Regions from separate parts of the Homo sapiens genome. Here region 1 is linked to region 2. Evidence: fine-mapped expression QTL. Tissue or cell type: blood mononuclear cells. Region 2 holds a variant in brackets; the other region holds the start of a gene. All regions are shown on one strand. Distances are from middle to middle.

The links. PIP is the estimated chance that this variant, and not a neighbour inherited with it, causes the effect.
Region 1: it holds the start of BRD7, and the variant in region 2 is fine-mapped to the expression of BRD7 in blood mononuclear cells (TOPMed, PIP 0.91).

The regions. Positions count from the first base shown.
Region 1 is chr16:50,366,391-50,371,390 of GRCh38, reverse strand. It overlaps BRD7 (bromodomain containing 7), which reads left to right and starts at 2,403. Exons shown (of 17, transcript NM_013263.5): 1 at 2,403-2,665; 2 at 3,093-3,301. The coding sequence starts at 2,617. RefSeq lists silencers at 2,225-2,474, 2,505-3,014.
Region 2 is chr16:50,310,201-50,315,600 of GRCh38, reverse strand. ADCY7 (adenylate cyclase 7) reads right to left here. Exons shown (of 26, transcript NM_001114.5): 19 at 4,721-4,914; 20 at 3,815-3,908; 21 at 3,410-3,565; 22 at 2,565-2,711; 23 at 1,539-1,643; 24 at 1,195-1,309; 25 at 463-587; 26 at 1-242. The coding sequence ends at 96. Among named protein-coding and RNA genes, the nearest start is that of MIR6771, 20 kb to the right of the region's middle. RefSeq lists an enhancer at 970-2,169. The variant T/G (reference allele first, on the strand shown) is at 2,163.

The DNA of each region.
Region 1 (5,000 bases), 56 kb before region 2:
CTTAACTGGGGCCTCTGCTTCTGGGACTCTCACAGGGCTGTGATCAGGATGTCAGCCAGGGCTGAGGTCTCATCTGAATGTTCCACTGAGGAAGGATCCACTTTGAAGCTCACACAGTTGCTGGCAGGATTCAATCCTTCAAGGCTGTTGGACTGATAGCCTCAGTTGTAGCCGGATGTCAACTGGGGCCCAGCCTCAGGTCTTTGTCACATGGGCTTCTCCAGCATGGCAGCTTACTTCATCAAAACATGCAAGCCAAGAAGGCAAGAGAGACGGTCAGCAAGTAAGACTGAAGTCTTATGTATCCTCAACACAGGAGTGACGTCCATCATCTTTGCCATATTCTATTGCTCTGAAGCCAGTCTCCAGGCCATTCTACACTCACTGGGAGGTCATGAATGGCAGCAGGCAGAAATCTCTCAGGGGAGTCTGCCCGAACCAGGACCGTGCAGCTCAACTAGCATTTTCTGGTGCCTTCTATGTGCCAGGCATGGTATTAGTGCTGAGAATTTAAAACTAGATGAATTTGGGCTTCCACTTCCAGGAACATTTTTCTGGGAGGTGTTTTCTGCTACGTACTCTTATTCACTTTCCATTGATGTGACCACTTTGTGACCTATGTAGAATCACTCTTGAGAGGGTAGGGAAATTACTAACTTGATAGTATGGATGAGTTCACCAGACCTTTTTCCTCTGAGGGGCATTTGGACAGTAGTAGTCACTGTGCTAGGCACTGTAAGTACCAAGGAGGTACCCAGGGTAATGAGGAGCAGACAGGTAAACCCACAGGTTGAGCCTGGAGCAAGGCAATGCCACAATAGAGGCCAGACCCACAGTGGGAGTTGGCATAGTGGTTCTTAAAGCAAAATAAGTTACAGACAGTGGATGAAAAGCTGAAACCAAGCTTTGCCCTATGCTTAGGGGGCCTAGGGGGCCTAGCTGGCTTGATTTCAGAGCAGCAGAAGGTCTCTTCCCCAACACAACCCCTCTTCCCACACCCTGATCTCTGCCTCACGGACACCAGAGAGGCTTGTTACAGGGAAATAATAGACACACACTTTTAGCTTTCATGAAAAAGCAACTCTCTTCATTAGAAGAACCTCATCTTCCCTGGCTAACCATAGAAGTCTGGCAGGAGCTGCCAATCACAGACTCCACTTCTCTTGGCCAAGGGGGTGAGGGGGTAGATTTGGCATCCAGGCCGAATCAATCTCCCATCCCCTGTCCCATAAAACATGTGACACAAGCCAAGCCAATCAGAGTCCTTCCCTGGGACTGTTTTCCAGGTGAAGCTGACAGGAAGAGATCTTTTTCCCAGTTGGTCAGGACACTATAAAGAAGAGGCCTCAGAAGCAGATGGTGGCCATGTTTCCAGCCATATAGGAAAGAAGGGGGGAGATGGAGACCGATATACAGAGAGACAAGAGAGAGAGCGAGCTGGCATGCCAGTCAACAGCATTACATCCTTGGTTCCTGTCTTCCCTCTGGCAAGCTTTATTCTTGCCCTTTCTAGACATGTAAACCAATAAATCCCTTTTTATTTACTTGAAATAATTCAAATTGGTTTCTATTAGTTGCCAACAATAGGGTCCTAAAATATAAGCCTATAATTTCACCACTGAAGTTCAAGGTAAAGCTACAAATCTTCCTGGGAGAGGTGATTCATGGGTCTAAATTGTTACTAAAGTATAAATGACTGATAACAGATCCTTTCTTAAGAGGAGACTATAATTACGAGCTTATCTGAAAACAGACAAAGCACCATACAGCTAGAAGTAAAGACAGTCAAAACGTCTGGTAACCTTCACCTATCAGCACATAAGTTTTTTTTAAGATTAGAATCTTCAGTCACCAATGTGCTGAGTTTGCTGGGTCTGGCACCCAGTATGGGGTTCAGTCAATATCGTAAAAGGGAAGAAACAGAAGCAAGGGAAAGTGGAAAGAAAGGAAGAGTGGGGGAAGGAGGAAGGGGAAAAAAAGAAAAGAAAAAAAGAGGGAAGGAGACGGGAAGAGGAGAAGGAAGGGTGATGAGGGAGGAAGAAAAGAGAGAAGGAAGGCTTGAAGGGAGGCAGTAAGGAGGGAAGAAAGAAAGGAAGGAAGGAGGAAGGAAGGGAAGAAGGGAAAGAGAAAGAAAGAGAGGGAGGGAGTAAAAAGAAGGGAGGGAAGTGGAGACGGAGGGAGAGACACACAGAGACAGAGACAAGACAGACAAATTGAGGGGAAAGGGAGGAAGGAAGAAAGACGAGAGTCTGAGCGGTGGATCCCGCCCCGGCCCCGCCCTCGGCCCCGCCCCCGGCCCGCGAGCTGCAGCACCACCTCCGGTCGCCAGGGGCCGCCACCCGCAGCCGCCGGCACCCTGTGCGCGCGGCGGGCCTTCTTTCCCGCCTCTGCGCCGGCCGCGCGCCCCCCCCGCCGCCGCTCTCGGGCTCCGGCCGGGTCTCGCGCGCCGTCTTCTCGAGAGGGGCATCGCGCCGCCCGGCGCGCGCCGCCCCCCTGCCTCGCGGCGCGGGGTCTCGCGGGCCCCGCTCCCGCCCTCCGCTCGCCTGGCCCGGACCGGAAGCGGCGCCGCACGGCCTGGGCCTGGCGCGGGGGGCGGGCACCGGGGCCCGGTCGGACATGGGCAAGAAGCACAAGAAGCACAAGTCGGACAAACACCTCTACGAGGGTGAGGAGGGGGCCGGGGTGCGGGCGGCGGGCCCTCGGCGGCTCTGCCGGGCTTCCGCTCTTTCCCAGTGGCTCCGGGGCGGCCCGGGGCCCTTCCTTCCCACGGCAGGCCCAGGCCGGCGAAGGGGGCGCGTCCTGCCGGAGGCCGCGCTGCCCCCCGTGCGGCCGCGGCATTCGAACCCGGGTCCCCCTGGTCCGGTGGGTCTCTGGTGGGGAGACGTGAGGCGGGCCCGGGAGGCCTGGGAGCGTTCGGGGCGGGCGGCGCCGCCGCACCCCCGGGCCGGGGTCCGTCATTCAACAGGTGCTTCGCGGAGCGCCCAAAGCCGCCTCGGGCTTGCTGCGCCTTGGCGCTCTGCATCCTTAGCACTCCCTGGAGAGCCCCGATTTTAATCGACGCGCTTTCCTTTCTTTTCTTTTCTTTTTTTAAGAGTATGTAGAGAAGCCCTTGAAGCTGGTCCTCAAAGTAGGAGGGAACGAAGTCACCGAACTCTCCACGGGCAGCTCGGGGCACGACTCCAGCCTCTTCGAAGACAAAAACGATCATGACAAACACAAGGACAGAAAGCGGAAAAAGAGAAAGAAAGGAGAGAAGCAGATTCCAGGGGAAGAAAAGGGGAGAAAACGGAGAAGAGTTAAGGTACAAGTGGTTACATTGCTTTGGCTTTGCGGACGGCACTGCCTCTTCCAGGTGCCAACCTCATTTTATTTTCTTTGTATCTGGGGAAAACAAACGCCTCTAAGATCTGGCTCGTTTGAGGAGGAGCAGGACAGAATAGAGACATGAATCATCTATGAGTTTCAGCAAGTCGTTTTTGGATTATACTCTTAGGCAATTGTACTCGCACATCAGGTGAGGAAGCAGCTAAGTCCAAATTTTGAGGAGCTGCTTCAAAGAATGGTTTTTCCATCTAGGCAGGGTAAAAAGTCATGCTCAAGAAAGCCTCAGTGTTCAAGGATTGTCAAAAATAGTCATTTCAGAAGCGAGTGGGATCTACTGGGGTTTAAAGTTTGTTCTGAAATAAATATTATAATGCCAAATCTGTAATGAGCAACTTTAAATCTTTTAAAACAGTGTTGTAGTGTGTTGAGAAAATTTGGTCAGAAACCTGTAATGGAGATTGATATTCTTAACCATTTGCATTTAACAGAAAAGAATGAGTAGCTACCATCTTGGTTTGAAAGCTGGGCAAAATAATAATTAATGGCTGGGCCCAGTAGCCCACACTTGTAATCCCAACACTTTGGAATGCCGAGGTGGGAGGATTGCTTGAGGCTGGAAGTTCGAGACCAGCCTGGGCAACATAGCAAGGCCCTGCCTCTGCAAAATAAACTACAAAAATTTCCAGAGCCTGGTGGTGTGCACCTGTGTCCCAGCTATTCAGGAGGCTGAGGTGGGAGGATCCCTTGAGCCCAGGAGTTTGAGGTACAGTGAGGTATGATCATACCACTGCACTCCAGCCTGGGCAATAATACGAGACTCTGTCTCTAATAATAATAACATTGTTATTACTGTTATTAACTTTCCAAATTTAACCTGCCACTGAACGACTTATTACATCAATTATTGTGAAGGTAAATTTTCATAGGTTAGTTATGTAATTTTTCTTATGTTTATATATACAAGAGGAGCTTTCTCTTCCATGTGATTGAACACATTGCTAAGTCACCAAGTCTTAGAGATCTTATTTTGGGGATTTCTTAAGTCTATTCCTTCCCTTTTGTCCCAGTTTTTATTACCTTTGGCTAGGTAGGAGTAATGTTTTGTTTTCTTCCTTAAATTATAAAACCCATATATGCATTTGATTTTTTAAAAGTAGTTCATGTGGTGCAAAAGTACACAAAATGGAAAAAGTTTTCCTCACCCCAATCCTTCACATAGACTCCCTCTTCAGAGGTAACCAGTTGTTTTTTTTAATTAATAGTAGTAAAGTAATTCGTGAAGATGATTTTTAAAAGTCAAGAGTACTACACAGCTTTTTGACACAAAGCAGGCTGCTGCTCCACTCTGGACACTTTTTAGGTATTTTTCCTTGCCTACTTATTTCTATTTCAAAATAAAGGTTTATATTGCTATTTACTGATTTAGCAGTTTATATCTTCTACTGACATCATGTTATGGAAGATGAGAATTCAGTTTCCCTTGCTCAAGGTATAGGTACATCACAATTATTGGTTAAATCAATATTAAAGTGATTGTAGACAAGTATAGTATGCAAATATAGATCTGATCTTAACTAGTTAGATCATTGCTTTCATTTGTTTGGTTATTGCTTAATAATTCTTCCCAAACTCTAAGATTTATGAAACTCATTTGAGTTCTTTACTTCCTTTTTTAT
Region 2 (5,400 bases):
CCTTTGGGATTGGCGTGGGGCGGAGAGTCTTCTCCTGGGCTTGCTTCAGGGAAGGAGACTGGCTTCCCGGCCTTTTCGGAATCCAGCAGGAGCCCTCAGTTCAGCCCCAGCCCCTGAAACTTGGCAGTGTCCGTACAGACAAAGTAAGTCCTCAGCTCGCCTTTGCCTTTGACGTTGATCAGGCCACGGCATTCACAAGAGTACCCGAGGCCCTGGAGGATGGTGCAGGTCTCCTCGGTAACCTGAAAAGGAAGAGAGACCTGTTGTCTTCAGAGGCGGGAAGAACACCTGTCATGGTAGGGACAGATAGAGACTGCCCAGGCATGCAGTCTGCCTTCCCTGGAGAGTGTGATAGCTAGAACCATGGCTGCTGGGTGAGACAGCAGCTCTTAAGTCCAAGTCCCCTCACCTCTGGGGAAGATCTTTTCCCCTTAGTCAACTGCTTCCCCAATAGGTCTTTACCTGGATTTTCCCAAGTTCTCCAGTGCTTTCCATTCGGCTGGCCACATTGACAGTGTTTCCCCAGATGTCATACTGAGGTTTTCGGGCCCCAATCACTCCAGCAATCACAGGCCCATGGTTTATGCCTGAAGATGATGTTTACAGTTACCCAAGCGTGCAGGCAAAGCCTCAAGCTTCTGCCCTTAGAGGAGGCCAGAGAATCCATACCCCAGCACAGGATGCGGGGACAAAACAACTAGAGTGAAGGCTGGGTTGCTTCCCAGAGTCACTGCGTTGCAGTCGGGCTTGGGGTATGAGGAGGGCATTCCCCGGCCAGCTCTTTTTCAGACTCAGAAGTCTGGGTTTGATGTTAACACTTGTATCTGCTAATCTCTCTTTTAACAAAGAATACTTTGTTAAAAGTATTAACAAAGGCCTGGCTTTGAGCGCAGGCCCGCAACTATTTAGGTTTAGTAACTTTGCTTCCTTCTCTATATTTTAAGGTCACCTGTTTACAGACAATAATTTTGGTTCTCCATTTTCTGTAGTTACGTATTATTAAAACTCTCAATGGTAACTATATGCTAACTATATGCAAAACATCAGAATAATTGTCCAACTGCTGAGCTTGTCAGATCAGAGGGATTTCTAAAACCTTTCATAATAGATGGCGAGGTGCAGCTGTGCCACACAGACTGGGTGGACTGGCCTAGAGGCAGGGGCTCCCCACCCCGCTCCATCACCCGGGCTCACCGACGCGGAGGCGGAAGGAGTTGAAGGAGTGCCTGTTGATGCCGTCCAGCTTACTCATCAGGGCGATGCTGAACTCCACCATGACACCAATGTGGGCATGCTGCCGCTCCAGCTCCTGCGGGACAGGCTGTGGGTCAGATCCTTGCATCTCCAGAGCCCCCAGACCTAGTGGGCCCTGGCGCGCCACTCTTGTTGAGGATCCCCACCACTAAAATCCTGGCTGAGCCCTACAAGTACCTGTGCCCCTCCCCCAGGACGAGATAAGGGCACACCCTTTAAGTAAGGTGACAGGTCACCTTTAAGTGAGGACAGTCAGCTGAATTTCACCTCTTGGGCTTGAGTACCTGGTTCTCGTGCCCTGAGGCGACGCTGAGCCCTGCAGCTGCCATGTACGTGCTGCCGATGGTCTTGATCTTCTCCACGCCGCTGAACTTGGGCTTCAGTAGGAGCTGCAGGCAAGAAGGAAGCGGTGAAGCAGCCGCCACTCCATAGCCGCAGCCAGGCTGCCCCTGCTTCTCAGGAAGGGTGTGGGGTTCCCTCCACCCATCGCCGCCTCTCGCACACACGTCTCATGGCTGCCCTGCCAGCTGAGCGCATGACTAAGCATGGTGAGGACATGGCCCTTGGCGGCTCCTGCTCTTCCTGTTGTCTCCGTCCCCACACTGTCTCCCTCTTCCCTTCCATCTGTGTCTGCACAGAGCAAACACAGCATTATCTACACAGGAATGTAGATTCTTTGTCTCCAGCAAAGAATTCAACCCAAACTGATTTCCTCTGTTTGGCTTGGTTGATAGCGTGGGCTTAGTTGGAAATGAAGCTAAGGGGCCTGAGTCTAATCTTAGCAAGCTGCCCATCACAGAGAAGATGCCAACGAATTATTTGCTGCATAAAACAGAATGAAAAAGAAATGTGTACCTTTATATTCTGTGTAATGTATGTTCCCCCCAGGCGGGCCACGTCGTTTTTTT[T/G]TTGTTGTTGTTGTTGTTGTTTGAGACAGAGTTGTGTACTGTTGCCCAGGCTGTAGTGCAGTGGCGTGATCCCAGCTCACTGCAACCGCCTCCCAGGTTCAAGCGATTCTCCTGCCTCAGCCTCCCAAGTAGCTGGGATTACAGGTGTGCGCCCCAAGCCCAGCTTGTAATTTTTTGTATTTTCAGTAGAGACAGGGTTTCGCCATGTTGGCCAGGCTGGTCTCGAACTCCTAGCCTCAAGTGATCCACCCACCTTGACCTCCCAAAGTGCTGGGATTATAGACCACCTTGCCCAGCTCTGTGTCACATTTTTAAATTGGGTTTTAGGATGGCAGGTGCCACCGCCCTTCCCTCTCCAGCATGGGTGGGGGCTGCTGCGCAAGGCTGGGCTAGAGGCTGTACCTCGTCGAAGTCGGCAATGATCTCATTGAGCAGGCGTAGGCACTCCAGCCCTTCTTTGTTGACATCGCACTCTGTGTAGAACACTTTGAAGTCCGGCACGGAGGCAAACATGACACAGACGCAGTCATAGGACTGATGGTACCAGTCCTGGATGGGAAGAAACCGGACCTTACACCACTTCACCTCTTGAGGGGACAGGAAGAGTGGCAAGGCCTCAGGAGCAGATGGCACTGCTGAACTGCCCAGCCCAGCTTTCGGGGAGTGGGGAGGGGGGCGGGCTGCATGAGTTTCATCTGGTGGCTGTTACCGGGTGATTAAGAATTGGGTGGCCAGGGAGGGTCAGGCTCAGGTTGGTTTTTGCTCACAGAAGCACCATGGGTGTTTCCATGTACACATGGGGTGAGAACCTCTGCAGTAGTGGAGGGTAACGGGAGGTCTTCATTCTCACTGGGCCTCCGTTTCCTATCTAGAAAACTTGCTACACATAACTAGTAGAAGTACAGACATTTTCATCAACACAGAATGTCCAGATCACAAACCCCTGAACACACATTTCATCCTCGCCACAAGCCTGTGGGGAAGGGCTGTCAGCCCATTTTACAGAGGTGAAGACCAAGGCCTGGGAAAGCAAGGTGCCTTGTTCACGACCACACTTGAGCCCAGGTCCCTGACCCCAGGCCCATGCTCTCACAGCTGATGCCATACATTGTCGCCTGGGCATCCCGGTGAGGCCAGGACCTGAGGAAGCCAAGCTCAGCATGCACTCCAGCTCCACACCTTCACCCTACGGACTGCGCCTGGACCGTCCGCCTCCCTGCCCCCGCCCCAGCCCCTTCTCAGCACACCTCGTTTAACTTGTCACCGATAAAGTGGGCAGCCACGTGGGCTGGCAGGACGTTCTCCAGAAGAAGGCGGTTCACGTTCTCCATGGTCTCAAACTCCTCGTGCTCCTTCTTGAACTTCTTCTTCCATAGGCAGTCCAAGCGGCAGTAATAGTCAATCTGCAAACGGCAGCAACATAAGCGCCCCGTCCACAGGCAAGTGGGAGCCGTGCTGCTGTGCATCTCCTAGCCAGGTCTGTCTGTCCCTGGCGTCCTTGGAGCCTCTGGCCAGGGGACCAGTGCTTTCCTGGCAGGACTCTAGTCTTTTCTGCTACTCCACCTGAGCCCACCCCACCCCACCCCATCTCCAGATGGAGGTGAGGAAAAGTGGGCAGAGCTTGGGGGGGGGGGGGGGGCCAGCCTCCTTACCTGTCTGGAGAGTGTAAGCAGGGTGATGTAGAACAGGACCAGGTAGAAATTGGTCATGGTCTTCAGGTCCTTCCAGGAACAGCTAGGGGTGCCACTGAATGCGAAGGGAGGCCCAAGTCACTCCCAGCACTCACCACTCCAACCCACTGAGTCATGCTCTCCAGGTGCCACGCACACCCAGGGGAAAGGGGAAAATTGATTCTAATGGGGTGGGTAGAAAACAAGACAACTTTGGGGTATTATAAAGGGGGGAGGGGAGAGGTGGGCAGGGAGATGGGGGAGCCCTTGTGGGGAAGACCTCTGATCTCACCCCTGAATGACCAGAATCAGCTGTGATGAGGGCCTGAAGGGAGCCCAGAACTGGTGAGCCAGGGTCAGTGGCAGGCGGGGTGGGGTGGATGGGTGGCATAAGGATTTTGCAGGTGCGGGGCAGACCCACAGGAGCAGGTTCTGTTCTGGGTCCCAGGCTTCCAGCTTTTTTGTTTAGGGGGGCCAGGTCCGCTCCTTAATCCACTTGGGACCCAGAACCCCTAGAACCACACACCCCAGCCCTGCCAGCCTCAGGTATCACCACCTGTCCAGGAAGAGATGGAAGCAACTGCTCCTTCCAGAACTCGAGACCCAGGATGTGGCCTTGAGAGGCACAGAGCTAGAGCTGCAGCCTCCTTCCCTCCCCACCACTAGACTGGCCTGGAAACAGGATGACCCGGTGGCCTCTGTCAGACTAGGGACTTCCTAAAGAACCTGCCAGTGAATTCCTCGGCTCTGAGCGCTGGACACCATCTGCCAGCCCCGCCCTGCAAGGTGCCCACTCCCCATGAACACAGAAGCCCCTTGGTGCGAGCAGGCAGGCACCAGATGAACAGGCCACCATGGGGATGGGGACGGGGACGGGCGGGACCCCACCTGGTGGTGCCGTTGGGCTTGGTGAGGTTGCCCAGGCCTTGGCCGCAGCAGTCCCACTGCCAGCATGGGGAGAGGTTGAAGAGCACCAGGTAGGCCACCAGGGCCACTGTCAGCAGCACAACCTTTGGCTCCAGGCTCATCCTCAGGAAGACCGAGCAGGCGATGAAGCCCAGGACACAGCTGCAGGTGTAGTACTGAGGGGGCAGGGTGTCACTCAGGACAGGGCCACCCCACCACGTACTCTCGCCTCCAGCCCAGCACATACCACAGAGCCCCACTCCCTGCACCTCAGCATCACGCTCTTGCCTTACCACCTCCCTTCTCAACAAAAAACAATGAGACCTAAGAGTGTCCAGTGTTGTTTTCACTGTAGTTTTATTTCTTATGAAGTGAGCTCATTTAAACGGGAAAAAACAGTATGCAGGTGCTGTGGATACAACAGACCACAGTCAAGGTCAAGGCCGGAGCGTGCATGCATCCAAGCTGCCTCCCTGAGTTTTTGTGAGCTTACCCTCCCAAAGGACCTCTGCCCTGCTCAAGATTGTGCTGTGGCTCCCCAGCCCCCAGAATAAAGACCACGCTCTTCACACCCCGGCATTCCTGCACCTCCCAGTCTGGATCAAGCCTGCCCCCGGCTCCATCTCCCAGTTCTCCCCACTCCCTCTCCAGGAGACAACCCA